4 linked regions of the Homo sapiens genome follow. The protein of the gene in region 2 interacts with the protein of the main gene of each other region in a pairwise test. Each region holds a gene or a part of one and is shown on either strand. Other genes may lie near its edges.

Region 1 (7,760 bases), on a different chromosome or scaffold from region 2:
GGGGACCAGGCAGAGGAATGTCATAGCATGGTTGTACCTCATGGGGCTACATGGAGGAATGGCCAGCACCTAGTCCTGCCTGGCACAGAGCAGGTGTATTACCTGGATGCCACAACTCTGTGAGCATATGGACAGCATGATGGATGAGAATGATGGGGGCAAGGGGGGATGTTACCAATAAAATACAGCATGTCCGCTTAATTTGCATTTCAGATAGCCAATAGCAAATTTTCTCAGTGTATCTCATACAATATCTGGGACATAATTATACTAAAAAATTATGAGTTGTTTATCTGAAATTTTAATTTAGCGGGACGGTCTGTATTTTTATTTGCTAAATCTGGCAACTTTTGGGGTTGGGGTTTGGGGCCCGGCAACCTTTGGGGTGGGAGGTCTTTGTGTAGAGCCCAACCTGCCCGCCAAGGCCCACTCACCGGAGAAGAACTGGCTGATGGAGGTGGGCAGGAGCGTGAGGAAGGCCAAGGGGTGGGCGAAGGAGATGGAAAGGACAGCGGAGATGTAGGCCACGCCGGCCACCATGGAGTAGAGGCAGGCCAGGGAGGTGTAGAGGCAGAACAGGACGAAGTTGCGCATGTTCCTGCTGCCGATGCAGTTGCCGGTGAAGAAACAGTGATGGTCGTGCCTCAGGGTGACTCTGGCGCACACTCGGCAGAAGTGGGTGCTAGGTGAGGGGCATGGAGTCTTCCTGGCCGAGGCCCCCTGGCAGGCCCCCAGGTCGTCTGGGGAGTTCTGGATGACAAGGACGTAATTGCCCAGGGCGTTGGCCGAGAGGAATAGGAAGAGCGCCCCGTGGAGCAGGGCGGGCGAGAAGAGCCGGGCGGCCGCGGGGTCCTCGCGCATGCTGGGCAGGAAGAGGAAGAGCTGCAGCACGAAGGTCACCAGGGAGATGCACAAGAAGTAGGCGGGGGCCACCACGTTGAGCAGCCGCAGGGCCAGCATCCTCGATTACATTCCTGCGGGGCCCGGGGTGAGAAGAGGACTGACTGACTACGGCGTCCAGGGGGCGCCCTCGCCCGCTCCTCCGTGCCGCGCGTCTGGGGCACTGCACGCGACTCCACGCCCCCAACCCCCTGTCCCGCGGATTTCCCCTCCCCAGTTCCCTAACCCCGGATCAGGCAGGCCAGAGACCCGAGCCCGCAGCGGCCTCGGGTCTAGGCCCCACCTGGGGGTGAGTGTTGCCTGGGGTTTTGAGCGAGCTCGGCGCCTTGGCGCGGCAGAGTCTGGCACAGGAGGGAGGGACTCGTTTGCAGTCTTTAGGAGTTGTGAGGGTGGGGGGCACCGGGGGATAGGACTCCTCCCCTCTGTGGATGTGGAAACAAGCCCAGGTTTGGGATTTCTGGTTCAGACCTCCCTAGGAGGAGAAAGGGAAGGATTTGGGGTCGGGGGCAGGAGAATCAGCGGCACTTGACCTGCTGGAAATCCTGCTTCACACTCCCCTTTCTCCGTCCCTGCGTCCCCACCCACACACACATCTTGGGCAGCACTCAGGGACCTCACCAGGTTACCCAAGGCTCTTTGGAGGTATGTGTGCGTGAGGGACCACGATGTGTGTGTGTGTGTCCTTGTCTGTGACTCTGTACGTGTAATCTGTGTGCGCTTGAGTATCTGTATTTGTGTATGTATATATCTGCGTGTACAGACACGCAGCCTCTGCTATCTAGCTTTAAAAAAATCAATTGAAACAATCGATACACTCACACTCGCTCTCGGGCACCGGGTGAGGTGGGGGCGCAACCAGAATACCTGTGTCAGCGGGTCCTGGCCAGCACATCTCTCCAACGCTGGCTGCCCGGGCTATTTCTTTGCGAAGAGCGTTTTCATTTGAGGCGAAATTAAAATCCCCCCTTCGCGCCCGCCTCCCGCCCTCCTGCTGAGAGAAACCCAAACAACCCTCATGGCGCCGAAATCCTTTCCATGCCGACAAGCCCGCCCTGGGCGCACGAGTGGATGCTTGGCCAGCCTTTCCTGGGATCGACCCCGCCGCCGTGCTCAGCCCTCACCACGTCCCCATCCCACCCCACGCCTCACAGCCGGGGTTCCTGGCCAGCTTCGGAAGCCACCGAGAAATAGGATTCCGTGCGCCCGAGAGAACTTTTCCAGGGGCTAAGGAATCGGCCAGCCGGAGGCGCGAGAAAAGTTCTGGGAAGGCGGTTGCACCTAGGATGGGTGGATGCCACGGGGCCTCCGTCCAGGCTGTCCCGTCCGCACGGGTCGACTGGTCACCTTGGAATCCCCTTTGCAGGTCCCAGCGCCCCCCGGGAACCCGCAGCCTCCGCGGAGAGCGTGGGCCTCTCCCTACCGCTGGGGCGCAGCGCAGTGCACGCCTGAGGGTGGTCGCCGGGGGCTGGGCACGCCCCCAGTCCTGCGCCGCCGGGGGCTGCGGCGGTGCTGCCCACCCCAGAGAGCCCTCGGCCTGGGGCTCCGGCGAAGCAAGTGCCTTCCCGGCGCCGGTCGCCAGGGGGGCGCGGGAGCAGCCAGATGCGCCGCAGCGCTGGGAAGGCGGCGAAGGACAGGGGCTAGGGGAGTGAGGGGCGCTCGGCAGGCAGCCTCAGCCCTGGCCCTGCGCGGGAGAAGGGACAGCAGAGACCGCCCGTGGGGCCCCGGGGTGTAGGGAGCTGTCCGTTCAGCCCTGGCGCCCGCCTCGCCCGCGGCAGAGGGCGGCACAGCCGGAGCCTTGGAAAGACCGGCAGCGCCGGCAGCCGCGGGCTTCTCGGCCACTGCCTCCCGGACGCACGGGAAGCCGCCCCCCGCGCCGCCGCCGCCGCACTGCCGCCGTCGCAGAGGGGTGAGGAAATCAACTCACCGAGCTCTGGTCGCCGACAAGAGGAGCCCCGGACGCCGGCTCTCGCCCTGCCCGAGGCTGCAAAGTTGTGGACTCGGCCCGGCTGGCTCGCAGCCTGCGCTTCGCTTCGGGAACTGGGCAAGTAGCGGGGATGTGGGGAGGAGGGAGCGGGCAGCTGCTGGCTTCCCACTTGGGCGCCAGCGAGTAAGGGCCAGGAAGCGGCGGGGATGGCAGCTGGGCACCCCCCAGCCCCGCCACCCCTCCCTCCGCTCCTGGGGGCGGTGCTCTGGCCGCCAGTCTCAGCATCGTGGACTTGCCCCCTCCTCCCCTCTCGATTCCCCTTGAGCGGGCTGGGGCGCCCTGCCTGGTTTCAGCGCCCGTTCCAGCTGGGAGATTGGGATTCAGCCCTGATGTGGATTCTCCAGCCATCATCCTGCCCTTCCCTCTCGGCTAGGTCCCACGACCTTCCCTGCTCTCCACTCGGACTGAAGGAACCCTGGGGGCTTGAGAGGTCAGCTTGCCAGGGCAACACCCATGAAGATCAGCGTCATCTCCTCGGAAGGGCTGTGTACAGAGGGTTGGGAGTTGGGACTCTGGAGCCTGTCTACCTGGGTTTGAATATTCACCATTCACTACTGTGAGATCTCAGATTCCAGTTTCTTCGTCTGTAAATTCCAGTGTGATCTTAGATTCCAGTTTCCTCATCTGTGAAATAGAGATATGAGGGTTAAATGACAATCTATGTAAAACCCTTAAACAGGGCCTGCCCAGGGCAAGCACTGCTTGATTAGATCATAATTAGACACTACTTATCGGGCCCCTACTAGGTAGCAGGCATTGTGCTAAGCCTTTAGCATAAGATGCTTCCTTAATCCTCTCAGCCTGATCTGTGAAGCTGGCTGAGCCCCATTCTGGAGATGAGGAGGTTGAAGCTCAGAGAAGCTAAGTCTCATGTCTAAGGTCATACAGCCATTAAGTGACAGAGCCTGGACTTGAACCTGGTTCTAGCATTAATGCTCCTGCACTCAGCCTCTACACAGCCCAGCATCACCCTGGGACCCACGGGCAGCTCTGATTTGAGAGAAGGAAAGACAATGGGAGTTTATCCAGACACAGAGCTTGAACTTGGAGCTTCTTCTTTGAGCCTCACCCCCACCTTCTTATTTCTATTTCCTTCCCCTTCCAGGGCTCCGCTATTCTAAGGTGGGTACTGTGATGCGCCAAGAGGGTAGTGACACCAATGTGTATCAAACAGTGGGGGGTGGGGGGAGCAGAGCCTTAAAAACATCAAACACTGCAGGAATATTGGTGCCATCACCATCCTCAATTTCCTGGGTGTCGCAGCTCACCTACCTGCCCTGTTCCTCTCCTCTCGGTGATGGCATACTTAATAAATAAACATTTATTGCTTTCTCAACTGGCTGATTAAAACAAGAGCAATCCCTTGAAATGAGGGCCATATGCTGATCAGCTCAGCCTCTATTCTTGAATAACCACACACTGTTTCCTCTGTAATTTATCAGCATACATCAAAATAAAAAAGAGGCCAGGAAACCTTTTCACATTCTAAAAGGATCTGACATGTAAGTGAAAGAACAGTATATGCCACATGGTGGCCGTGAGCAGCTGGTAGCCTTGTGAGTTCCAGTGGCCACAGGACAGACATGGGGAGGCACACATGGCCCTTTTCCCTTCAGAGCAGCTTTGTCTCATAATCGTGGCCGTCTGGGCCCCTTTTCACAAGCTCTGTCTGCCTCTCACATGGGCTTGGCAGGGAGGGAGGCTGGCTGGGGTGCTTGGGTTTGGGTATACTGACTGAAGATCTCCATTCCCCAAATACCTTGTGAGTCGGGTGGTATTTCTAATTTTATTTTGCATATGGGTGTGAGGTGGGAAGGTGTGTGTCTGAATCTGTGTGTATGAGGAAAGGGAAAGAGAGAAAGAAGCTAAGCGAACGTGGGAAGATGTTAGTGGGGGAAGGGAGTATTCAGTCAGGAAAAGGAGATCTGGTCGTGGAAACACAAATGGACAAGGACGATTATTTATTTAGAAATATCGTTTATCAACAGAAAAGGACATTACAGCTTCAGATCTAAAGCTAGTGGTTCCTCAGCTCCCCTTAAGGAATGGAGTGAAGGGAAGCACGGCAAATGTCATTTTGTTTTTCTAAAACTTATGCTTATCCCTGACAAAATCAATAGGGAGGCAAAATCAATATGAAAACTTCACTTGGATTCTGGCCCTATGAGAGTCAAGCAGACTAAGAATGAGCATTTTATTGCCATTTACCAGCTGTGTGACCATGAGCTGCTAGTCATTTAACCTCTCTGCTCTCAGTATTCTCATCGGTAAAATGGGAATAAGAATGCTGCTGTTATTTGTGGTGATGATGATCAAATGGGATCATGTAATTTAAGCACCTTAGCGTCTCCCACATCTTTAGGGCTCCTCTTTTCAACCACAGGACTCTCTTCACTTTCCAACTAAAATGAGAGCTCCTTGCCTATGTTGGAAATGTTTTGGGGTTTCTTCCATATTTCCTAATAGGATGATTTGCCCAGAGTTGACACTGAGTAAAAGTCTCTTGATCGATGAATTGCTACTGGTCTGTCTGTGAAAGGAAGAGCTATATTCTGAGGTCTTTGAAATGTCTGGTGAGGGCCAGATGCATTGGCTCACACCTGTAATCCCAGCACTTTGGGAGGCTGAGGCAGGCAGATCACCTGAGGTCAGGAGTCCGAAACCATCCTGGCCAACATGGGGAAACCCCGTCCCTACTAAAAATATAAAAATTAGCCAGGCGTGGTGGCCAGTGCCTGTAATCCCAGCTACTCAAGAGGCTGAGACAGGAGAATCGCTTGAACCCAGGAGGCAGAGGTTGCTGTGACCCAAGACCATGCCATTGCACTCCAGCCTGGGTGACAGATCAAGACTCTGTCTCAAAGAGAAATATCTGCTGAGGACACATTTGCCATTGATCTTGCAACCTGCCACCACCCACCCTGACTCTAATCTCATCCTCCATAAACAGTGACAGAAATGATTTATAAACCACACTCTCCATTGCTCTTGCTGTAGATTCCTATAGTTAAGCCATAACTGTACCTGCAGGCAGTCCCATGGGGACAGGGGCACAGATAAGCATCTCATTGCTGTCCAGCCCTTTCCTGGAGATATGCGCCCTCAATCTTGCTATTTGGTGGTGTTATTTGAATAAAATGAATTCCCTTTCAAGTGGAAATTATTCCACTTTGCTTCAGAGTGTTGTATTACAAGGAGAGAAATCCATGTAGCAAGCAGCTTCTGCCTTGAGTGAGTAACCCCGCCTCCATGTCTGTCAGGCCTATAATGCCCCAAATGTTTTGGATGGAGACTATTCCAAGATGCAAGGAGCTGCACCTAAGAAGGCTGGTGGTGGTTTTCTTTCATTCTTATGCTCTTATTTCAGATAGATCAAGGTGAAGATAGGCTTGGGTCAGGATGCTCTTTAGCGCTGACAGCAGATCATAGCCAGGGATAACCACAGAGTGTTTCCCAAGCCTGGGAAGGCTTACAAAGATGCCATCCCTGCCTGCCCAGATTTGGAAAACATGCAAGTGTAATCTTCATTTTAGCCAACTAAATACATGAAAATTGGATTATCACAGAGTTTCTATTTGGAGGTGGTAATTTACTTTGCTAACTATGTCTTCATTTTAACAACGATAACATTACTTTGATGTAATAAAGTGCTTTGCAGGCTACAAAGTCATCCACAAAATTAAAATTTCATCCCATGAATCTCTCTCAACAGCACAAACTAGCTGGGGTGAGAATTATCAAACCCATTTTCCTTATGGGGAAACTGAGGTTCAGAGATTTGCTGCATGTTAATTTGCAAGGCTTGACTATGTTTGATTTGAAATATGATTTAATATGCAAAACATATCTCATCGATATTTAACTTTTCTGGAACATGTCAGTTGCATAAAGGAAGCAGGTATGTAACATACTCCCCCAGAGTAACAGACCTGAAGGATCTCCCTTTACCTAAAACTGCTGTGCTCTGCACTCTGCATCCTGTCTACTCTGCTTTGTCTTCAACAACTTTTATCACCACTTGACAGGTATATATTTGTCTGTTTACTGTCTGTCTCTCCCCACTGAATTCTCAACTCCGTGAGAGTAGGATTTGAACTGCTTTATTCACTGCTATATCCCAAGTGCCTATAACAGTGTCTGGCACATAGTAGTAGGTGCTCAGTAAACATTGGTTGAATGAATAAATATAATATGCATAAACTTGTAAGCCTGCAGCACATTAATCAAATGCCCTCAGGCACTCTGCTGTTTGTCGTGCTGGAGGGGGTGTGTGTGATTAGGGGCAGGTATGCTCAGCCTCCAAGCTCACATGTCAAGGTAGAAACTACAGGTCTGGGTGACAAGTAAACCCAGTGGTCTCCCAGGTGATTGGTGCATCAGGGTGGAAATCTTGGGTTAGCTTGGGAGAGCCTCTTTTGCAGTATCCAGGCTGTGGAAGAATGAACCAATGGGCTCTTTCACCAATTAGCCATGGTTTCCAGGGACCGTTTAGGCAGTCCTGGTAGGGACGCCTGTGCCTGTGGACAAGCGAGTACCCAGCCCTGTGGAAGCGGTGGCAGCAAGATTAACTGGCCCTTTCATCTCAGAGCACGCAGGAGGCAGAGGGAGGAGAAAGAGGGGGTATAGGGAGGAAGAAGAGGAGGGAGGGAGAGGGCAGAGAGGAGAAGAGAGAAAAGGAGACAGGAAGGAGAAGAAAGGGGGGTAGTGAGAGAGTGCTCATTTATCTGTCTGACACACCAAGTTTATGTCTTCATGATGGAGGAGGCTCGGGAGGAGCAGGGCAAAATCAGCTGTCTCCATCGAGAGCCCTGCAATGCCAGGTGTCCAGGTTGGGAGGGAATGAGGCAGAAGGTGGACATCTCAATTACAGGAGGAG
Region 2 (7,018 bases):
TGCCCAGGCTGCAGTGCAGTAGTGCCATCTCAGCTCACTGCAACCTCTGCCTCCCAGGTTCAAGCAATCTCGTGCCTCAGCCTCCTGAGGAGCTGGGACCACAGGTGTGCGCCACCACACACCGCCCAAGTCCACTGATCTTTCCACTAAACCACAGGCACCATTTGGGGCCTGGGTTTGCACCAGGGAAATGTATCTGTAAAGAAGTTTCCCCACTTGAACAAGCAGACTTCACGGTGGAGTTAGTGATCCAGGAGCATGGACTCTGATCCCCACGCTGGTGCTAGCGGAAATGATTTTACAGAGAGGACTGTAATTATTAGTGTTACTGAGCATGCCCAGCTTGAATGCTGGAGTAAAAAGGGAGAAGGCATCATCTCAGTAGGCATGATGAGCTCAGAGCCCCTGAAGTTGCCAATGCCCGGGATGTGCTGAGTTCCTGTACCACACGGAGCAGGGCCTATTACAGTCTGCCATCCAGATAGGCCTAGGGCAAAGCCCCTTGGGAAACAATCCCAGATGACCCTGAAGGCACAGGCTCCAACAGACATCCTCCCTGCAATGAGCAATGCTGTGCTGTGCCGCTGGTCTGGGAATCCCAAGGGGAATAGGAGGCCTGACCCAAAGGCACCGTTGGTCTGGTAGAGAGATTAGACGTGGCACACAAAAGTTAAAAGAAAGGCAAATATGGTCATCGCCATATGAGTGGAACAAACAACCAGAAGAGTTCAGAGGAGGGAGAGGTTAGTTCTGCCTAGGATAAGAGGAGGGTGCTTGGAAAAGGAAGGTAGGAACGATCAGAGAAAGTAGCAACTGAGCTAGCCTTTGAAGGAGGGTAGTACTGACCCAGAGTGGATGGCGAGAAGCTTACTAAGGGGAGTAGAGGAACATGAGGCAGGAACCACCAGAAGCCAGATGGCTGGCAGCTTTAAATGCCATGATAAGATCTGTTTTTTTTTTCTCTCTCTCTAATTTTTTAGAGACAGGGTCTCGCTTTGTCGCCCAGGCTGGAATGCAGTGGTGCAATCATGACTCACTGCAGCCTCGAACTCCTGGGCTCAAGTGATTCTCCCACCTCAGCCTCCTGAGTAGCTGGGACTACAGACTTGCGGTCTGTTGGTTGTGCAGGCTGGTCTCGAACTTCTGGCCTTAAGTGATCCTCCCACCTTGGCCTCCCAAAGTGCTGGGATTACAGGTGTGAGCCACGGCACCCAGCACATTTGACATTTTTATGCAGTGGGCAAGAGGAAGCCACCGACGTCTTTTTCATCAGGGAAGTGTGATGATGAAAACTCAACTTAAGATCACTCACCTAGCCTCAGAGTAGAGGATAAATAAAATTCGAAGACTAGAGATAGGTCAGCTAGTTAGGAGGCAATGGGCCAGATAAGAGGTAATAAGACCTGGGCTAGAACAGTAACAGCAGCAAAAGAAAGAGGAGACAGATTTCAGACACGCGGCACAGAGGCAGGGTCCAGGTGAGCTGGCAACTGATGGGCAGTGGAGGATAAAGACAGGGAAGAATCAAAGATGACTCAGAGGTTTCAAGCTCTGGATGACTGCAAGGACAGAGGCACCATTACAGAGAGAGTTCAGGGAGAGAGGCTGGTTTGGGATTGCAGTTGATTATTTCAGCATTAGCTCTTTCGGTTGAGGTGCTAGCAGAACTTCTAGATAGAGGTTACAGGAAGCAGATGGAAAGTCAAGAGCTGTGGAAAGAGGACAAAACTAGAGAAATAGATGTGGTATCTATCTGTTCAGGGGTCAATTCCACAAGTAAATGGGCTTTCCAAGAAAAATACTAAAAAAAAAAAAAACTTCAGGAAAACTTGCATTTAGGCATTGACCAAATAGTTGCATAAATCTGGCTTTAAATAGACAGAGGTCCAAGAACTGAAAACTGGAAGCTATGAAAGCCACAGGGACAGGGGCAAGGAAATGCATCAGGGAAAGGGAGGTATTGCTAGGTACCTGTCTGTGTCTGTTACATACACACAAATGCGCGCGCACACACACACACACACACACACACCCCTCTATATTTTCTCCCGTGACCTCAGGGAAGTATTAGGATAGCACCAACCATGTAGTAACCTTAGAAATGGAGAAATGAAAACTCTGTTTCTTAACCTCATAGAGAAAACATCAAGGCCCCTTTCCTCAAAGGCAGGTTCCAAGCCCTTGGATAAACCTCTATCCTGGGCATGAAAAAGATAGCAGGAATTCAGATGAGGCAGTCAGCAAAGAGAATGTCAACTCCTCCCCCCGCAGGAACTCCCCTTGCAGAGCTCCACCCTAGGCCAAAAACCAGAGCCCTCCCTTCTGCCATGGCTCCTCAGCACTGGAGGGGACGAGGCAATGCCTTGGCTTCTGAGGGATCAAGCCTTTCATAACTGGATGACAGCCCTTTAACAACTGGAGCTCTGACTGGGACATGGCGGGGTGCATACTCAGCAATCAGCTGCACCCACATTAACTCAACTGCCTGTGACCTTCAGCTCCACACCCTGAACCAGCAAATTCCCAAAAGCCACAGCCCGGGGCCTTCCACAGCTCTAACTGTGAGGCCTGATAATCACGCCCAGTCACCCTCTAGGGCTCAGAGCCCTCTCCCCTCTAAACCCACCCCTCCCAGGATAGGGGCAAATTTGAGATGTTTATCTTCATATAGCTCACAGAGAAACTGAGGCAGAATCGGGGAGAGGGGTAACAAGATTGGAACGCAGAAATCCTAACTCTTAAATCATGTAATTCACCCACTAGATGGCAGTATCTCCTAAAAACCGCCCATAAACCATAATAAGGGGTGAAAATGCCTTTATGTAATAATAGCCAGCATTTAAGCGGCATCCACTCTCTGCTAGGCATTTGATCCAGATTATATCATGTAGTCATCGTAACAATTCCACGAGTTAGACTCTATTGCTATCACCACTTTATAGCATTTGCCCAGTGCCAAAAAGCTAGCAATAGACCCTATGCTCTTAACTATCATACTTTCGTTGCCTCTCAATTGATCTGTATTTTTAAACATGTAATATATACTCAAACCTTGAAATAATCTACAATTTTTCTTTTAAAGACTCCAAAAGTCATTCACTTAGAATTCAGAGGTCAGTAAACTTTTTTTTTTTTTTTTTTTTTTTGAGATGGAGTCTCGCTTTGTAGCCCAGGCTGGAGTGCAGTGGTGCAATCTCGGCTCACTGAAACCTCCGCCTCCTGGGTCCCAGTTCAAGCAATTCTCCTGTCTCAGCCTCCCAAGTAACTGGGATTACAGGCACGTGCCACCATGCCCAGCTAATTTTTGTATTTTTAGTAGAGACAGGGTTTCACCATGTTGGCCAGGCTGGTCTTGAACTCCTCGTGATCCATCTGCCTTGGCCTCCCAAAGTGCTGGGATTACAGGCGTGAGCCACCGTGCCCGGCCAGCAAACTTTTTCTATGAAGGATTAGATAGTTCTGTTTGAGGGGGCCATATGATCTTTGTCCCAACTACCCACAGTTCTGCCATCACAGTGAAAGTAGCCATAGACATATGCAATGAATGGGCACTGCTGTGTTCCAATAAAACTACAAAACAGGTGGGCAGGCCAGATTTGGCCTAGGACTGCCAACCCCCAGACTTAGGCCATCGTACGTGACCTTGCAAGAGCTTGGTGAAGCAAGATTAAAACAAGTGAAGCAGCCAGGACTCACCATTTGCCCGAGGTTATCCAAGCAATTCGCATTGAGTCAGAATTAATGTCAGGTCTCCCCACTCCCAATCCTGTGTCCCACTTTACGTATCAGCACAGAGGCATAGAGAAGATCAAAGCCCGGAAACCCTAGATGTGTGACTTGGTAGAAAGAGTAACAGATTGATTGTTGAGAAATCTGAGTATAGTCCAGACTCTTCTACCAATATTGCTATGTGACCTTCAGTGGTCAATTGTCTCCATTTGAGGGCCCAATCTCCTCATCCATAAAACAAAAGAGGTATGCCTAGCTCTAGGTGACGCCTTAGGCCAAGGAGCTGTGACACTGTCTGGCTCTGCTTGGTGATTTGCCCTGCCCCACCCAACACTCACTTGACAGCAGTGGTGAGGCGCAGGGGCCTGACGCCGGGCGTGGCAAAGCGCAGAGTGTTCATGTAAGCCACATGCTGCAGGGCATGGTTGAAGGTCTCCACATCATCCCCCTCCAGGGTGAGCAGGGACTGTGAGGGGTTCACGTGGACCTGGGCCCCAGACACAGATACAGCTGAGAGCAGGGCCAGGAGGTGGCAGAGGAAGGGAGCAGAGGTAGAGGGGTAGGGCAAGGGGGTGGGGCAAGGGGCATGCTGGGAAGAACAGGGCTAGAGGATGGGGCAATACCTTCATGCCTTTGCCCAGGCTCTCGAAATCCCTATAGTCCAGCCCCTCCCGACATGCATAGAGGCACTCGATGACCTCGCGGCTCTCCAGGCGACCTGAGCGCACGCTGAAACCAGCCAGGTAGCCATGGAAGTAGTGGTGGATCGACAAAGGGTCTCCTAGGGTAGGAACACAGGAGCAGGACGGGAGGTGAGAAGAGAGGAGGATGGAAAAGGACGAAGGCTGAGAGAAAGGGAAAGGAGAGAAAGAGCAGAAGAGTTGAGAAAGAAAAAAAGGAGAAATGTGGAAACCAAAAAAAAAAAAAAAAAGGAAAAAAGAGAGATGAGAGGTGAGGGAGAAGTGAAGGTAAGGGGGGAGGCTAGAGAAGGGAGAAAATGAGACAAAAGAAGACAGAATAAAGCCAGGGGAGAAGAAGAAGGGTGAAAAGTAGAAGCAACAAAGATGAGAGGGAGGAAGAGAAGGAAACAGGACCAACAGGAGGAAAGAGTCAAAACAAGGAGGGAGGGGGAGGCGGCAGGAGAGAACGTCTTTCCAGTGACATGCAGGGAGACCAGGATGGATGTGAGCGAGCTTCACAGATGCCCAGACCTTCCCCTTCTGCGTGTCTGACTCCTGACTCCTGCCACCTCCCTTCTACCATGTGGAAAGCCACCAAGAGAGCCCCATTCTTCATTCTGTGGGCAGGACAGGATACCCAGAACCCAGCCAAGCTGCCTCTAGCCTTACCACTCCAGGAGCCCCTGCCCTGCTGTATTTCTTGGAGGCTCTGCCCCCTGGTGGCCTAGGAGGCTGTCACAGGCTGGATAGGATTTGGGGTGGAAAAGGGATCTCAGAACAGAAAGTGAAGATGAGAACTCTCTGGTCTCCAGTTCTTACACACGGAGTACCTTGGGTGGTGTCTGTACTGTTGTCTCCCTTTTCCTTCTCTTTGTTCTTCTCCTCTGGGGATAAAAAAAAAAAAAAAACAGTGCTGGTGAGCTCAGGGATGTGGAGAGATTGACAGAGAGGAATGAGATGTCTTCCTCTCATCCCCATGAGTGCTCTCATGCCCACATGGGATTCTGACCCTGCCCATGTATAACTTGCAACCTCTCAGCTCAGCCCCAACCCTTCTTTTGTCATGTTCCAACCTCTCCAGCCTCTATTATAGACAAACCCCCAAATACGATATGCTGCTGAGGAAACACGTGGGCTCTGGTAAGACAGACAGGCACATGTGCACACACACACTCCCAAGAGGAGAAAAATTTTTTCAATGGCTTAAAAGTTGGAAGACCGAGGACACTCTAAGGGGTTACTCTCCTTGAGCAGGGGAATGGGCTATGGAAGTCATCATCACTTTGATGGAAAAAAGTGGAAACTGGCTGGAGTTACAGAGAGAGAGTCTGGGGATGCGTGAGAAGTTAATTCCTCCAAGTCAGAGGTGATGACCCATTGGATTAGTGGGAGATACGGGAGGGAGGCTGTGGTCCCTTCCCATGGAGATCTTCAGAGTCACCCTGCACAGCTGCAGAGAGATGCAGGAGGCGGCCTCAGCTGCTGGGTCAGACTGCCCTTGCTCCTCACCAGCCTACCTCCCTTCCCAAATCCTGAACCACTGGAGTCTTCACTGAGAAGCTTACCAGTCCAGCAGGCCCCAATCATGAGAGCAGGCTCCCTTCGGGGTGGGTGGATGAGGCCATTGTCATGGATGAGGGCAGGGTCGAAGGAGATGCCGTCGGTATAGAGTGTGACTGTGGGGAACTCGAGGTTCAGAGCGTAGTGGTGCCACTCATCATCACAGACCTGGGAGAGTAGGGTAGGGGCAAGAGCCTCTCAGGTAATTCGTCTTCAGAGAGCTAACCCTAGGCACTGCCCCATCTCCTGGGAGACAGGGGACAGTCCCTTTATTCCCAGTTCTACCAACAGGGCTTACTAGTGCTTTGCTGCCTATCCAGCTCGAGGAATAACATCCTTGTCCAAAATCTATCAGGCAACCAACCTAGTAGCAAAGATTCCACTCTTCAGGTAAATCGTTAAAGCTATAAATATTCCTAAGAGGAGTAACACACTTTCATGAATAAATTCCCTGCCCCCCGAACTTATGTATTACATATGTGTGTAAGGCACTGGAAACTCTAGAGATGGGGTTTCCTTCTGTCCCCCAGGCTGGAGTGCAGTGGTGCAATCATAGCCCACTGAAGCCTCAAACCCCTCGGCTCAAGCAATCCTCCCACTTCAGCCTCTGGGGTAGCTGGGACTACAGGTATGTGCCACCATGTCCAGCTAATTTTTTTATTTTTTAGAGATGAGCTATCACTATGTTGCCTAGGCTGGTCTCCAACTCCTGGCCTCCAGTGATCCTCTCAGCCTCCCAAGTAGCTGGGATCACAGGTTATCTCTAGGATAGCTTCTAACCCAACATTAAGCACTAAAATAAATATTGCTTCCCTTTGCAGTCTCTCCTAGGGCCAGCCAAGATGGAATGGGGGATGGTCAGAGGAAAAAGGGGCAGAGAGTACTCTGCCTCATCCAGTTCCAAATGTTGGGGTCCCTCAAGGCTCAGACCTAGGCCCTCTTCTCTTTCCTCTCTACACTCTTTTCCTAGAAGTCACCTCATCTGTTGCCATGGGTTTGGGTACCATAGTTATACACTGGTAACTCCAAAATCCACATCTCCAGCCCAT
Region 3 (7,918 bases), on a different chromosome or scaffold from region 2:
TGCAGGCATCCCCCCAGCAGCCCCGTATGTTTGATGGGCCCCAGTGGAGAGCTGGCTAATCTTGTTAAAAGATATTCAAGATCTAAAGAAGATCCAGATCGGCCTGAATATGAGGTATCAGTGTCCCCATGCCCTACCCCACAGTGTGTGGCCGTTGTCTCCTTGAAGTGGAAGAGCAGGGACCAGAGGATGCAGAAGAGGAAGGCGACAAGTGGACAGCAGACCGTGACCAGGGCCACCATGGTGAAGCGGAGCCGTACCAGGGTCCCATCCCGATCCAGTGGTAGTGGGACCTGGTACATCTTGTCAGACCTGGGGATGGAGTGGCATGCTGTCAGGGCCCCAGGCAGCCAGGCTGGCACTCAGTGATAAAGTCAGCCCTTGTGCTCAGTCCTAAAATTAGCTGTGTGCTGTGGGGTGGGGAGTCTGAGGAGGAAGGCACCTAAACTTGGATAGCTCTTGCCCTGGATGAGGAAGACTGACTCAGAATCCCAAGACAACATTCCACCTCAATTTCAGAGGGAAGACAATGAACCAAATCTGTGCTAGGATAAAGCTTGAATGGACTGGGAGAGCTTCTCCTCACTCCTCTCTGCCTAGCTTGACAGGCCTAGGACTAGAGAAGCTGCTTTAAATAAGTGTCTCTCTTTATTTCAAGAACCAACCCTAAAACCTACCAGTGGATGGCATGGCCCATCTCCTCCCCCAGGCCTTTGAGCCTCGGCCCAGCCTCCAGGCTTCAAGGCCTCTCATCAGCTCTCATTTGCTTCCCCACTGGCCCAGGGCCCTCCTGCACCTTCAGTCCCTTCCCAGGCTCTGTGTGCCTGCACCGCAGTCCACAGTGGCAGGGATTCCATGGAAGCTGACAGAACCCCAAGCCCCCTGCTTGTCCCAGCCTGCTCCCTCACGTGCCCCCAGGGTGAAAGGCTTTGCAGAATCAGGCCTGGTGCTAGCCTGGGATTGCTGTTTGCTGGAGAGAGCTGCTTGGTCAGCTTCTGGAGGCTTCCCAGTGCCCAGGGGGCTGTCCACATCACCCTCCTGTGAACAGATGAGGGTTCCTGGGGGCTGTGATTTCCCCCTTAGATAAGGGTAGCTAAGGTCAGGAACTATAACAAATAAGTGTATACCAACAATCCTAGCCCAGCTCCGCACAGTATACAGAAGGGAAAGTTGGAGCAGGAATCTGCTCAGGATCACATAACAAAGAGATACATGTGGGACCCACGAAGAGTTACACACTGCAACTCTGGCCTTCCTTGACCCCTTCCTCTCTGTGTCTGAACTTGAGAAAGGTCAGGTTAGGACTGGAGTGAGAGAGGCAGAAGAGGCACCTGTTCACAGGAGGAAGAAAAGGAAAAACCAAAATCTACATAGATGAGGCAGTTAGCCCTATTCCCATTGTAAAGATAGAGAAACCAAGACACTCAGAGAGAGAGAAGGGCTGGCTCTTCCTCAAAGCCCTGTGCTGAGCTGAAGGGAAAGCCATCCCTGGAACGTTGGCTTGTTGTTGCCAAGCTAGGGCTGGCTCCAGACACATAAAGAATATACCCTTCTGGGCTCAAAGACCTTGTCAAATCAAGTCCCAACTCTTCCTGACCCCACCCACAAGACTCTCCCTTTAGTCCCACCCTCAAAAAGAACCCTGATCTCAGTTAGGTTGCCATCCTGGCATTCCAGAACAAGCCAGGTGGCTACGCCTCCACATTCTCACCCATTTTCCCCCAGCTGCCAGACCTGATCAGGCAGCCTGCTCCAATTGCTCAAGTTCCTCTCTCCCTTTTAGGAGCATCAGGGATCCCAGGGAGCTGGAAGTGGCTCTGGTGACCCTCCCAGAAAAAAAACACATTCCCTGGATCATCCCTAAATGGACTCTAAGTCCCTTAGGGCCCTAGATGGGGAACATTTTCCTCACCCAGCCCAAACCTAGACTCTGCAGTTGCAGTAGCACTAGTCTTCCCTCCCAGTATCCCTCCCTGAAGGCTGCAGCTCTAGATCCCTGAGGAACCACTAGGATTCCCAAATTGAAGACTAGATCTTCAGGGAATGAAGAGGCACTGCCCAAATCAGGAGTTGATGAGGAGGTTCAAGGGATAATCCATTCCAATTCTTGGAGGTATGCCTGGCCTCCCATTTAGCTGTGTGACCTTTGGCAAGCCACTTAAGCACTCTAGATCTGTTTCCACAGTTCTGCAACATGGGAATCACATGGTTTAGATTACCTCTAAGGTCCTTCCAACTTGGTCATTCTACTCCACACCTCAGGGTGGAGCTGAAGGGCAATTGTTCAGCCTGCAGATAGTTCTACATTCCTCACAGGTACTACTTAGCTGAAAATTGCTTTCTTTGGAGCTACCTCAGCTCCAAAGTCCCTAGAGATCTCCTCAGCCTCGAGTCTGAACCCACATTTACTGAGTGCCTACGGAATACTAGGCCCCCTGCTCTGTACTTGATATACATTGTCTCTTTTAATCTCACCATAATTCTATGAGGTAGGTGCTACAGCCTGTATATTTCCATTTTACAGATGAGGAAACTGAGGCTCAGGGAGGTTCAAAACACTTACTCAAGGCCAAGGCTAATAAATGGCACAGCTGCCATTCAAAACTACTCTATGGGGTTCCAACCCCGGGGCCCCATCCTCCCCACCTAGGACTCCTGACCAGGAGGCCCCGCGGAATAAAGGGAGAGCTCAACCCCTGCACACCCGGCCCCACGCTGGGGAGGGAGAAGAAGGGGGCCAGCTCGGCAAGTCCAGAGAGCAGCAGTTCCTGGGAAACAGAGTGTGTGCGATAGGACGGCAGGTACCAGGACTCCCACAGCGTGGGGCCCGGCCCTGCAGAGGCCAGACCGCGCGGCCAAGCTCCCGAGTGGGGCTGCCCGGCAGCCCAGCACATCCATGCCCATACTCACCCACGCGGTGGTGGCGAGAGTGCCGGCGGAACCCGGGGGCCCAGGTGGCCCGGGGTCGGGGGCTGGCTCTGCGGGCTGGTCAGAGCGCGAACGGCGGGGGCGGGGCCGGCGCTCTCGGGGCGGAACTTAGAGAGGAAACTGCGCCCAGATCCTCCGCTGGCTCCTCCCCGCTTCTGGAGACCCCGACCCCTGGCTCTCCTCCTCAATCTGGCGTGTCCTCAAACCATGCTTTACAGCCCGGGTCTGCCCCCACTAATTTCGGCTGCGTGAGGGCAGCCGGAAGAGCTCTGGATACCTGAGTTTGAGCATGTTGGATAAGCCACCTTGTCGCCTTACCTCTCAGCTGCGTTCCATCTACCTGTTGAAAGAACACAAAATTAATTCAACAGGGGCCGGATTTCTTTCTCATCCGCCCGTCTCTCCTGCCTCGCACCTCCATTCTAACCGAACTATCCAGCCTCGCCCTTCTGAAACATTAAGCCAGTTTCCTCCCAGCCCTGGCGCCCCTCCCCCAAACTTTGCTCGTCAGGGCGGTTGGGGACATTTCAGCAATGGGAAGAGCACCTTTGCAGGCAGTGAGACCCGGTGAGGCACATCCCAGAAACTCTGGCCTAGAGCTGTTCCCGCCTTTGTTCAGGAGAGGGCGCCCTGTCCTACGTAGCGCAGAAAGGATTTCCAGCCACCAGCCTTGGGTCTCCCCACAATGAGAGGATTGATCCCCCAAAACCAGCTGCCAGAGTTCCCTCCCTACCCTGACCATGACTGACCCATGAAAGAACTTGAGGGGGACCCCTGGCTCCCTTTGCAAAGACCATCCCAGCCCAACAGGGAAGGAGGGTGAAGGGACCAAGAATTCCTCCTGCAAGCACACTGGTGGGTAGTCAGAGCATCTGCAGCGGGTGGAGGACCTCTAAGTTAGCCATACCTAACATCGCACTTTTCCACTTAAATCCTCACAGCAATAACACATTCTGAACACCCAGTATATCCCAGGCACTCTTACTTCTTATCTCATTTATTTAATCCTCATAAAAACCCTGTGAGGGCCAGGCGCGGTAGCTCACGCCTGTAATCCCAGCACTTTAGGAGGCCGAGGCGGGCGGATCACCTGAGGTCAGGAGTTTGACACCAGCCTGGCCAACATGGCGAAACCCCGTCTCTACTAAAAATACAAAAATTAGCCGGGCACGGTGGCGGGCGCCCGTAATCCCAGCTACTTGGGAGGCTGAGGCAGGAGAATCGCTTGAACCCGGGAGGCAGAGGTTGCAGTGAGCTGAGATCGTACCACTGCACTCAAGCATGGGCGACAAGAGCGAAACTCCATTAAAAAAAAAAAAAAAAACCTGTGAAAATAGATACGATCTCGGCTCACTGCAACCTCCGCTTCCAGGGTTCAAGCGATTCTCCTGCCTCAGCCTCCCGAGTAGCTGGAATTAACAGGCGCCCGCTACTGCGCCCAGCTAATTTTTGTAGTTTTTAGTAGAGGCGAGGTTTTGCCATTTTGGCCAGGCTGGTGTCAAACTCCTGACCTCGTGATCTGCCCCCGCCTTGGCTTCCCAAAGAGCTGGGATTACAGGTGTAAGCCACCGCGCCTGGCCTTTTTTTTTTCTTTCTTTCTCTCTTTTTTTTTGGAGACAGAGTCTCACTCTGTCACCCAGGCTAGAGTGCAGTGCCACGATCTCGGCTCACTGCAACCTCCACCTCCCGGGTTCAAGCAATTCTCCTATCTCAGCCTCCCGGGTAGCTGGGAATACAGGCGGCACCACCATGCCCGGCTAATTTTTGTACTTTTAGTAGAGATGGGGTTTCGCCATATTGGTCAGGCTGGTCTCGAATTCCTGACCTCAGGTGATCCACCTGCCTTGGCCTCCCAAAGTGCTGGGATTACAGGCATGAGCCTCCGCCAGTAGATACTATTTAATATCCTCATTTTACAATGGAAAACAGGGAAACCAAGTTACCTACTTACACAGCTAATACATGCCAGAACCAGGACTCAAGTCTGGTACCTGAGATAATTCACATAATCCACTATATGCTGTTAATGCCACTTAGCATTTGTTGATTAATTTGCCAGAGCTCTTTTTCATGTGTTCACTTTTGTTCATTCACCCAGTCTAGGCCCTCTCTTTGACAGGCCTCATGTGGAGCAATGGTGGAGGACCCAGAGATACCTCAGACGCACTCTGAGGGGCTCCGAAGTCTGGAGAAGGTGCGCACTCAGAGTGTCTTGTTCTAAAAACTACTTTTCTTGATTTTGAGTTCTCCCCTATCCTGTTCTTTAAGGTCCCAGGACAAATGGACTAGCAAAACTTTACAAAAAGAACTACCTCTCTCCAAATTTGGCAACTAGATTCAGGTTTTCTGCCTTGGGGCTTCATGTCATCCTCTTTGTCTAGCTCCAACCAGGGGTGTCTGCTCCTGGCTATTGTTCCCTATCTTGACACCTTGTCTGTTCTCTTGGCCCTAAGTACCATTCCCTGAGGCTGGGTCCCCTCTCCCTGCCTCTAGACTACCCCCAATGCCCAAACCTTGAGGTGCTCTAATTTAGATTAATTCTTTAATTCTCTGGTGATTTGGGAAATATGGGCAATTCTCCATATAGCCCTGAGCCTCTGTTTCCTCGTCTATAAAATGGTTTTATTTATTTATTTAAAACAAGGTCTCGCGGGGGCGTGGTGGCTCACATCTGTAATCCCAGCACTTTGGGAGGCCAAGGTGGGCGGATCACAAGGTCAAGAGATCGAGACAATCCTAGCCAACATGGTGAAACCCTGTCTCTACTAAAAATACAAAAATTAGCTAGGCGTGATGGCGCGCACCTGTAGTCCCAGCTACTTGGGAGGCTGAGGCAGGAGAATCACCTGAACCTGGGAGGCAGAGGTTGCAGTGAGCCGAGATCGCGCCACTGCACTCCAGCCTGAAGACAGAGCAAGACCGTGTCTCAAAAAAAAAAGGTCTCACTGTCTTGCCCAGGCTGGTCTTGAACTCCTAGGCTCAAGCGATCCTCCTTCCTTGGCCTCCCAAAGTGCTGGGATTACAGGCATGAGCCACCGTGCCCAGCCTGTAAAATTGATTTAGGAATATCCACACTGGGTGTGGTGGCTTACACCTGTAATCCCAGCACTTTGGGAGGCCAAGGCAGGAGGATCACTTGAGCCCAGGAGTTCAAGACCAGCCTAGGCAACATGGCAACAGCATCTGTACCAAAAAATACAGAAAACTAGCTGGGTGTGGTGGCACACACTTGTATTCCCAGCTACTCAGGAGGCTGAGGTGGGAGGATTGCTTGAACCCTGGAGGCAGAGGTTGCAGTCAACTGAGATCATACCACTCCACAACAGCCTGAGTGACAGAGCAAGACCCAGTCTCAAAAAAAAAAAAAAAAAAAAGAATATCCACATCATAGGGTTGTTGTATTAGAGGTAATGTAGCAGTGTGCCAGCCATGTGGGAGGTACTCAGTACATGATGGTCATTATGATTAGACATGTCAGCCACAGTGTGAACTCGTCCTGAACTTTTTTTGTATTGTCTGACCTTGGCTGTCACCGACCCTTTCTGAAATCTCTTTATTTCACTATCAGTTTGAAAGACCTCGCCTACCTTGATTTATGTGAGGGAAGATAAAAGAAATAAAAAGAGTTCTTGGGCCGGGTGCGGTGGCTCACGCCTGTAATCCCAGCACTTTGGAAGGCTGATGTGAGCAGATCACCTGAGGTCACGAGTTCGAGACCAGTCTGGCCAACGTGACAAAACCACATCTCTACTAAAAATACAAAAATTAGCCAGGCCTGGTGGCGGGCGCCTGTAATCCCAGCTACTTGGGAGGCTAAAGCAGGAGAATTGCTTGAACCCAGGAGGCGGAGGTTGCAGTGAGCCAACATTGCGCCACTGCACTCCAGCCTGGGTGAGAGAGCGAGACTCCACCTCAAAAAAATAAATAAATACAAATTAAAAATAAAAATACAAAATACAAAAATAAAAAGAAAATATTTGTTGGGTTGATTTAATGGAACTGGGTTTTGAAGAATGGGCAGTATTTAGACAGGTAAGCAGAGATTGAGGAATTGCTAGAAAGGGGACACAGTGAGCATGGCTGGGGTAGGTATAGAGGCAGGGACATAGACTGCTAAAGACATCCAGCTTTAGACCAAGCTCTGCCACTGCCTCCTGGGAAGCCTCAGGAAAATCAGTGTCCTTCCTGGGTTGAGGAGGAGTTATTCTTGTTCTTCTCAAAGATCTTTTTCATGACCAAGACATCCTTCCTGGATGGCTTTAAACCACCCACCCCCAGCTCACTCATCTTGCTCTAGCCTCACTCTGACTCAGATAGCAATTAAATCTTCCCCTGTTCATCTGCTTGCTTCCCTGTTCATCTAGCTTGGAATGTTCTCTCTTCCTGCCTCCATCTCAGGAAACTCTATCCTTCCGTAAAGGTATTTATGAGCATGACACTTTGGTAAGTTAAGAATGCATGTGGTAATTTCTAGGGAGATCACTAAAATAATACTAATAGGAAAAGAGAATTTAACTTTCAAACTAGTATAGTGGGAAAAATGGGCTGGGCATGGTGGCTCATGCCTGTAATCCCAGCACTTTGGTAGGCTGAGGCAGGCGGATCGCCTGAGGTCTGGAGTTTGAGTCGAGTCTGGCCAACATGATAAAATCTTCTTTCTACTAAAAATGCAAAAATTAGCCAGGCGTGGTGGCACGCGCCTGAAGTCCCAGCTACTAGGAAGGCTGAGGCACGAGAATCACTTGAACCTGGGAGGCAGAGGCTGCAGTGAGTCATGATCGCACCACTGCACTCCAGCCTGGGCGACACAATGAGACTGTGTCTCAAAAAAAAAAATATATATATATATAGCAGTAAATTCGTTAAATGCATTAGACTAAATGTTCTGGTTAAAAGCCAAAGTATTGGCTGGGCACGGTGGCTCAGGCCCATAATCCCAACACTTTGGGAGGCCAAGGCAGGTGGAACATTTAATGTCAGGAGCTTGAGA
Region 4 (7,562 bases), on a different chromosome or scaffold from region 2:
AAGCTGAGGCCCTGGCCCTAGTGATGGACATTGGGTTCTAAATGTATTTCTGAATGACTTGGAGCCAGTAACTTGTCTTCTTTGAGCCTTGGTCTCCTCATCCATAAAAGGGGTTCGGGATGCCTTTGTGAGAATCCTTGGGACTCTAAGGCTGGACAAGCACACAGGTAGCTCTTAGCAGTAGCACTTGTTAGTGTTCAAGGTCATGAGTGGGGGGCGCTAGCTCAGGTCTCTAGCTCTAGACTTCGAGATCCTCCCACTAAGCTACCCATTCACTGATTCGTGTGTTCACTACACATGTTCACAGAGTGTCTGCTCTGTGCCAGGCCCTGGGGTACGACGGTGAGCTCCACAGTCACTCTCCAGGCCACAAGGAGCCAGAGTTCATTGGGCAGGAATTGGGCCCTGCTTGGTACTCAGATTCACGGATAGGGCCTGGTACACAGCAGATGCTGACACTGCTGCTGAACTGAACTGCCCAGAGCCAGGTGACTTGGGGAGGTAACTCAAGGCTCTGAATCTCCATGTCCCCATCTGTAAAATGGGAAGAAGAACCTTGTCTCTCAGTGGGTCCATGAGGAAGTGGATGGGAAAGTGTGGTGTACCCTGAGGGTACTGGGAAAAGCAAGCTCTCAGTGCAGGGGGAACCTGGCAGGATGGAGTGAGTGGGGGAAGCTGGGATCAAAAGAACACTGGGACTCATTCAGATGCTCTCAGTGGCCAAGTGGCTGCCCAGCCCTACCTGCACATGCCGGCTCCCGACCTGCTGTCTGAAATCTGCCCATAAGTCCTAGCTCTGCCTTCAAGGAGACACACCACACCCCCTGGCCCTGCCAGCCCCTCACTAGAGCCAGCTCTGAGACTTGAAGACTGTGGTCAGGCCCTAGAACTAAACATCCCCTTCTTTAGCTGCTTCTGATGGGATGTGACTCTGAGTCCCTTCCTAGACCTCCCTCTCCTCATCTGTGGTAGAGCGGTTTGGTCATATTTAATATACGGTAGCTCTGCAGCTGAAAAAAAAAAAAAAAAAGAAAAAAAGAGGCTGGGCACAGTGGTCATGCCTCTAATCCCAGCACTTTGGGAGGGCAAGGTGGGAGAATCACTTAAAGCCAGGAGTTCAAGACCAGCCTGATGAACATAGCAAGATCCCATCTCTACCAAAAAGATAAAAATAAAAAATTAGGCAGGCATGGTGGTGCATGCCTCTAGTCCCAGTTATTCAGGAGGCTGAGGCAGAAGGATCTTCTGAGCCCAGGAAGTGGAGGCCACAGTGAGCTATAATCGTGCCATTGCACTCCAGCCTGGGCTACAGAGCCAGAGACCCCGTCTAAAAAAAATGAAATCTCTACACTGGACGCTCTGGGACATCTGTCTGAAGCTGTGCCAAGAGACAGTCCCCAGGGAGCAGGAAGGGATGGGGCTATTCAGTCACAGACTTGCTGTGTGACCATGCACCAGCCCCTCCCCTCTGGGCCCCAAGTTCCACATCTATAAAATGGGGAGGCATTGGTCCAGCCAGTGTCTGAGACCCCTGGAGACTGCAGGACCCTCTGGAGCTGAACCAGGTCTAGCAGAAGCAGAGGGCAGACGATGGGCTGGACAGGCACCATGAGACTGGAATAGCATTGTGAAGATGGACTGCCAGCCAAGCAGGAAGGGGCATGGCAGCTTCAGCGCAGGAGCCTGACCCACCTCACCCCCTCCACCCACCTACCTGGGAGCTCGGTGTCTACCTTCCAGCTGAGGGCTGGACTCAATAACAACAGCATCCCAGGACCAAGACTTTGGTCAAAGAGGAGGCACGGTGCCAGCATGGGGCTGTGCCTGGAGCACTGGACTGAGCCTGGAGCAGTCCTTGACTTTTTAAATTAAATTGATTGAGACAGGGTCTTACTCTGTAGCCCAGGCTGGAGTGCACTGGCCTGATCGTGGCTCACTGAAACCTCTGCCTCCTGGGCTCAGGTGATCCTTCCACCTCAGCCTCCTGAGTAGCCGGGCTAAATTTTTTTTTCTTTATTTAAATTTTTTGTAGAGACGGATTTCACTATGTTGGCCAGGCTAGTCTCTCCTGGACTCAAGCGATCCGCCTGCCTCGGCCTCCCAGAGTGCTGCCTCCCAGATGAAGCCCAGCTGGCTTCATTTGTCTTACCACTGTGGGAGCGCATAGCAGCGCAGCCGGCAAGGTGCTAAGCGCTTTACTCTTAGAAGCTGCCCTCATCCTCATAGTAGTCCTAGGAGGTGGGAACTACTGTCCCCCTCTTACAGACAAAGAAACTGAGGCTCACAAGGTCTCTCGGCTAGACAGCGGGGATGCCCCAGGACTCTGCTGCCCACAAGCAGCATCACCGTGCCCAGGCAGTGGAAGGAGGGGGCACATTAGTCCCGCTCCCCCGCTGCTGATCCTTTTTGCCCACGGCTTTCCTTCCTGGCCTCGGGAGAGTGGAGAGTATGTAAGTGGGAGCCCCTTGTAAGGGTGGGGAAGCTGAGGCCTGGCCCCGGGGTCCCTTCTGGGTAAGATGGGGCTGCTCTCTCCAGCGTCTCCTCTGCCGCCCACCCGGGGGTCCCCGAGGGCAGTCGTGCGCCTCCGCAGGAAAGGCAAGAGAGGGCGAGGGTAAGAGACGCTACAGCCACATCGAGAAGACACCCGCAGCGCTCCTCCCCTCCATTTCACTGCTGGGGAAACTGAGGCCCAGAGAGGAAAGTGACCCGACCCCGGCCTCGTAGTAAGTTAGAGGCAGAGCAGGTGGCCTGGCCCCCTGGGGGCTCGGGTTCCGGGCTCAGTGCTCCGCTCCTGTGGGAGGGTTGGGGTGGTTCGGGGCCTCCCGCGCGCCCCCAGTCGCTCACCGAGGCGCAGACACATGTCGGCTCCGCGCTGGTCCCGCCCCCGGCTTCAGCGCGGCTCCCGAGGCTGCGGGCCGCCGGGGGACCCTGCTCCCATCCCGCTGGCCCGTCGCCCGCGCGCCCCGCACCGTCGCGCTCGCCCACTTCCCGCCCGGAGCCCGGGGCTGGGCGGCGCCGGACCGGCCTCCCTTCCCGTCACCCCCCGGGCCGCCCGGCCCCGCAGCGCCCCCGCGGCTCGTGCCCCTCCCGGCCGGTCGGACCGGCTGAGCAGCCCATGGCCCGCCCGCTGAGTCAGGCGCCGCCCCGCCCGGCCCGCCCGGCGCCGAGCCGCCCTCCCTCAGCCCACCGGCGGCGGCGGGCCCGCTCTAGAAAGGGAAACTGAGGCTCTGAGGAGCCGCCCCGCGCGGGCCCGCGGCAAGTTGGGGGTTGCCGGCGTAGCTGTGGTTACCGTGACTTGGGTGTGGCTCTTGGGCGGAAAGCCCCCGGGCCCAAGGCTGGGACGGAGAGGGGCAGCAGGGGCAGTGAAAGAGCTGCTGGGGATTGGGGTCTGCCCCTGCCTGCTGTGTGACCTCAGGCAAATCGCCTCCCCTCTCTGCGCTTGCCTTTAGCGCCCGCGAGTCTTGTCTTCCACGCTGAAAAAGGCGCTTTAAGTCTCCTTCTTAGTCGGGAGGGCCTTCAGTTCCGTCCTTGGAAAATCAGGGATAATTCCTGTCCCCGAAGGTCGTGGTGAGACAAAATAGGATACAAAAATTAGGTAAGAAAGCGCTTTCGGCCGGGCGCGGCGGCTCATGCCTGTAATCTCAGCACTTTGGAAGGCCTAGGCAAGCAGATCACCTGAGGTCAGGAGTTCGAGACCTGCCTGGCCATCATGGTGAAACACCCCCGCACCCCCCCCCCCGCCCCGTCTCTACTAAAAATACAAAAATTAGCCGGATGTGGTGGGGCAAGCCTGTAATCCCAGCTACTCTGGAGGCTGAGGCAGGAGAATCGCTTGAACCCGGGAGGCAGAGGTTACAGTGAGCTGAGATCTCGCCACTCCATCTCAAAACAACAAAACAACAACAACACGCTTTGGAAACTCTCCAGACTGTCTGTATGGACAAAGTGTAGACCTAGCAAGAGCACATAGTAGGAGCTTTATTAGTACTGCTCTGGGTTGCTGAGCCCTTTAATGTGTCAGGATGGACCCCAGTGAGGTCCCTTGTTAGTCTCAGCATCCCTTTGGCATAGGTACCATTCCTGCACCTTTGGGCTCAGAGACCACAGACCACTCACCCAAGACCACCAGCTGGAAGTGGTGGAGTAGGCAGGAGCCTGGAATCCCCTTGGGTCTCTGTGCCCAAGTTCTGTAGAGTGGCCACACCGTGGCCACCTCCCTGGGCTCTTTCGGTCCTTGGAGGCACTTACTATGGGAACTGGGCAACATCTGTTCACAGCTTGCCCCACTTACCCCACTGGGCAGTGTCCCAGAGGTCAGGGGCTGGCTGGCTGTCTCTGGGTGCTTGGTTGGAGCCTGTCCTGGGGGCTGTCCACTGTCTGTGTGTCTTTCTGCACACCTGTGCTGACACCTGCGGCGCTGTGTGTGTTGGGCAGTTGGGTCAGATGTAGAGCCTCTGGAGTTTGGAGAACGCATTAACACCATGGGAGGAAGTGGAGCCATTTCTCCTAGGAAGCCCCCCGGGGCATCCCATCTGGTAACCCCCCAGCAGAGCTGCTTCCCTGTCACCTGCTGTCTGAAGGGGGATAATGTGCAGGGAATTCCGGGTGGGGAGACATATTTGTCAGGTGGAAGGGAAGATGGGGGCAGTTTATGAAGACATCGGGCTGGCATCGGAATGTTGATGTCCTCAGACAATCTTTTAGTAGGGCAATTTGGGTAGTACTTACTCATATTATAAATGTTCAGACACTTGTGGCCGGGTGCGGTGGCTCATGCCTGTAATCCCAACACTTTGGGAGGCCAAGGTGGGCGGATCACGAGGTCAGGAGATCGAGACCATCCTGGCTAACACGATGAAACCCCGTCTCTACTAAAAATACAAAAAAAAAAAAAAAAAAAAAAAAATTAGCCGGCGTGTTGACGGGCGCCTGTAGTCTCAGCTACTCAGGAGGCTGAGGCAGGAGAATGGCGTGAACCTGGGAGGTGGAGCTTGCAGTGAGCCGAGATCGGGCCATTACACTCCAGCCTGGGTGACAGAGTGAGACTCCGTCTCAAAAAAAAAAAAAAATGTTCAGACACTTGTAACTGTGGCCCAGAAATTCCATTTGTAGATCTTTATCCTACGCACCAGAGTGCAAAGATATGCATGCATCTAATGGTGTTTGTGGACAAACTGTTCCTAATAGCAAGCAATGGCACCAAAGTGATAACCAAGAGCGATGCAGGAGAGTGACGGGAAGGATTTTGCTTTTTGTTTTACACATGGCTGTATGGTTGAAGTTGGAGTATTAGAATGAATTCATGCCTTGGTTTTGTTGAAAAGAAAGGAAGGGCCGGCCTGGCGCAGTGGCTCATGCCTGTAATCCCAGCACTTTGGGAGGCCAAGGCAGGTGGATCACTTGAGGCCAGGAGTTCGAGATCTGCCTGGCCAACACAGCAAAACCACCATCTCTACTAAAAATACAAAAATTAGCTGGGCATGGTGGCAGGCGCCTGTAATCCCAGCTACTCAGGAGGCTGAGGGAGGAGAATCCCTTGAACCCGGAAAGCGGGGGTTGCAGTGAACCGAGATTGTGCCACTGCACTCCAGCCTGGGCAATAGAGCAAGACTCTGTCTCAAAAAAAAAAAAAAAAAAAAAAAAAAGAAAATAAAAGAAAAAATAAAAAGAAAGGAAGGGCCCCTTCATCACCACTGCCCTGCCCTCATTCCACCAACAGCTTGTGATGCCAATGCCCATCTCCCAGGGGCTGCCCCGGAGAGCACAGGTGGTCACTGCAAAGCCGATGTCAAACCTCATGTGTGTGCATGGATGTGGCTTCTCTATCAGTCAGTGTCAGGCAGTCCTCTTTACTCTAACCCCTGCTGGAGCCTTCTGGAATTAGGTTGGGGACCTTTTAAATGCTTTTGTTTCCAGATGCATAGATGATGATTCTCTTTTATCCTTGGAACAACACAGAATTAAAGATAATCACTCCATTTTACAGATGAGAAAATTGAGGCCCAGAGAGGTAAAGGACTTTTTAAAGACCCTACAACATATATTGGTGGTAAAGCTGAGACTTGAACCTGGACCTGTCTGACTGTGAGGCTGCTCCTGACTTCTGAGTGTGTGTGTGTTGGGGGTGGGGAGAGCCACAGTCCCCAGGAGTGTGCCTGCCCTCTGGGACCTCTGAGGAAGGAAAACTTTCCACCTGCTTCTCTCCAGACCATAATTTCCCAGCCGTCAGCCAACCTCAGTGGTCTGAAGCTATTGCCACTTCTTTTCCTCATTGCCATGTGGCCAAAGTCCATCAGTGCCAGCTACCTGGCAAGCCTTGGCCTCTGTTCCACCCCTCTGCATGCTGGCCTGAGGTTCTGGAAAGAACTCCAGGTCTGAGCTCTAGTTCCTTATCCTCCATCAACTCACTGTGATATCCTGGCAGCTCACTGCCATTTCCTGGGCCTCAGTTTCCCTATCTGTCAAATGGGGATAATGATTTTCTTTCCAGGTTTCCCAGATTTTTTGAGCCATCAATGACTTGCGAGATATGAAAGTTCATTGGAAGCTATCCAGAGAAATACAAATAGCAATTATCTTCCTGGTACATTTAACAACCAGGTGTGGCCCGTGCACTTAGCTGGGAGCTGGATCTCCCCAGGGCAGGGGCTCCCAGGGGGCTGCTTAGCTGGGAAGGTGGGTTCAGGCTGCCAGTCCTTGTGCATCCCCTCCTCAATTTAAAGAAGGTTGCCATCCCTCCCTGATTTTAAGAACTGTTCCTCCATGTAAGTAAAGCCATCACACACAACTGTACCAGATTCTAGTTTATGTATGTATATACCTGTATATAAAACTAAAAACCAACTGACCATGCTTGTCTGAGAGAAGAAGAGGCAGTTAAAGGAGACTTTCACTATAGCTCTAAAGTTTTTTTTTTTTAAAGCAAATATGACATGTTTACAGTTATGGATTCTAGATGGTGTGAATAGGAGTGTTACATTAATTTTTGTATTCTTTTACATGTCTGGAAAAAAAACCCATTGTAGAAAAACTGAGAGAAAAACAGAAAAGTATAAAGCAGAAATCAGGCAGGGCACAGTGGCTCATGCTTGTAATCCCAGCACTTTGGGAGGCCAAAGCAGGTGGATCACCTGAGGTCAGGAGTTTGAGACCAGCCTGTCCAACAAGGTGAAACTCCATCTCTACTAAAAATACTAAAATTAGCCAATGTGGTGGCAAGTGCCTGTAGTCCCAGCTACTTGGGAGGCCGAGGCAGGAGAATCGCTTGAACCTAGGAGGCAGAGGTTGCAGTGAGCCGAGATCGTGCTACTGCACTCCAGCCTAGGCGTCAGAGCGAGACTGTATACCTCCGTTCACATTTTTGAAGTTTTTTGTGCCTTTCTTTCTTTCTTTTCCCCCTCCCTTCCTCCGTTCCTCCCTTCCTCCCTTCCTTCCTTGCTTTCTTTTCTTTCTTTCTTTCTTTCCAGATGGAGTCTTGCTCTATCATCCAGGTTGGAGTGCAGGTGCCATCTCGGCTCACTGCAACCTCTGCCTCCTGGATGCAAGTGATTCTCCTGCCTCAG

The links.
Region 1: the proteins of CLSTN3 (region 2) and ZDHHC22 interact in binary tests that used the Homo sapiens proteins (3 or more experiments, as listed by UniProt).
Region 3: the proteins of CLSTN3 (region 2) and PGAP2 interact in binary tests that used the Homo sapiens proteins (3 or more experiments, as listed by UniProt).
Region 4: the proteins of CLSTN3 (region 2) and TMEM54 interact in binary tests that used the Homo sapiens proteins (3 or more experiments, as listed by UniProt).

The regions. Positions count from the first base shown.
Region 1 is NC_000014.9:77,138,779-77,146,538, forward strand, and holds the start of ZDHHC22 (palmitoyltransferase ZDHHC22), read right to left. Parts: upstream 3,014-7,760; 5' UTR 2,825-3,013; intron 1,967-2,824; exon of another isoform or gene 1,765-1,966; intron 975-1,764; 5' UTR 961-974; coding exon 435-960; intron 1-434. UniProt on the Homo sapiens protein: Palmitoyltransferase that could catalyze the addition of palmitate onto various protein substrates and be involved in a variety of cellular processes. Catalyzes the palmitoylation of KCNMA1, regulating localization of KCNMA1 to the plasma membrane.
Region 2 is NC_000012.12:7,140,361-7,147,378, reverse strand, and holds part of CLSTN3 (calsyntenin-3 precursor), read right to left. Parts: intron 6,138-7,018; coding exon 5,975-6,137; intron 5,294-5,974; coding exon 5,240-5,293; intron 4,511-5,239; coding exon 4,353-4,510; intron 4,217-4,352; coding exon 4,068-4,216; intron 1-4,067. UniProt on the Homo sapiens protein: Postsynaptic adhesion molecule that binds to presynaptic neurexins to mediate both excitatory and inhibitory synapse formation.
Region 3 is NC_000011.10:3,803,644-3,811,561, reverse strand, and holds the start of PGAP2 (acyltransferase PGAP2), read right to left. Parts: upstream 3,003-7,918; 5' UTR 2,911-3,002; intron 398-2,910; exon of another isoform or gene 313-397; coding exon of another isoform or gene 303-312; coding exon 138-302; exon of another isoform or gene 6-137; intron 1-5.
Region 4 is NC_000001.11:32,898,379-32,905,940, forward strand, and holds the start of TMEM54 (transmembrane protein 54), read right to left. Parts: upstream 3,012-7,562; 5' UTR 2,861-3,011; coding exon 2,845-2,860; intron 1-2,844.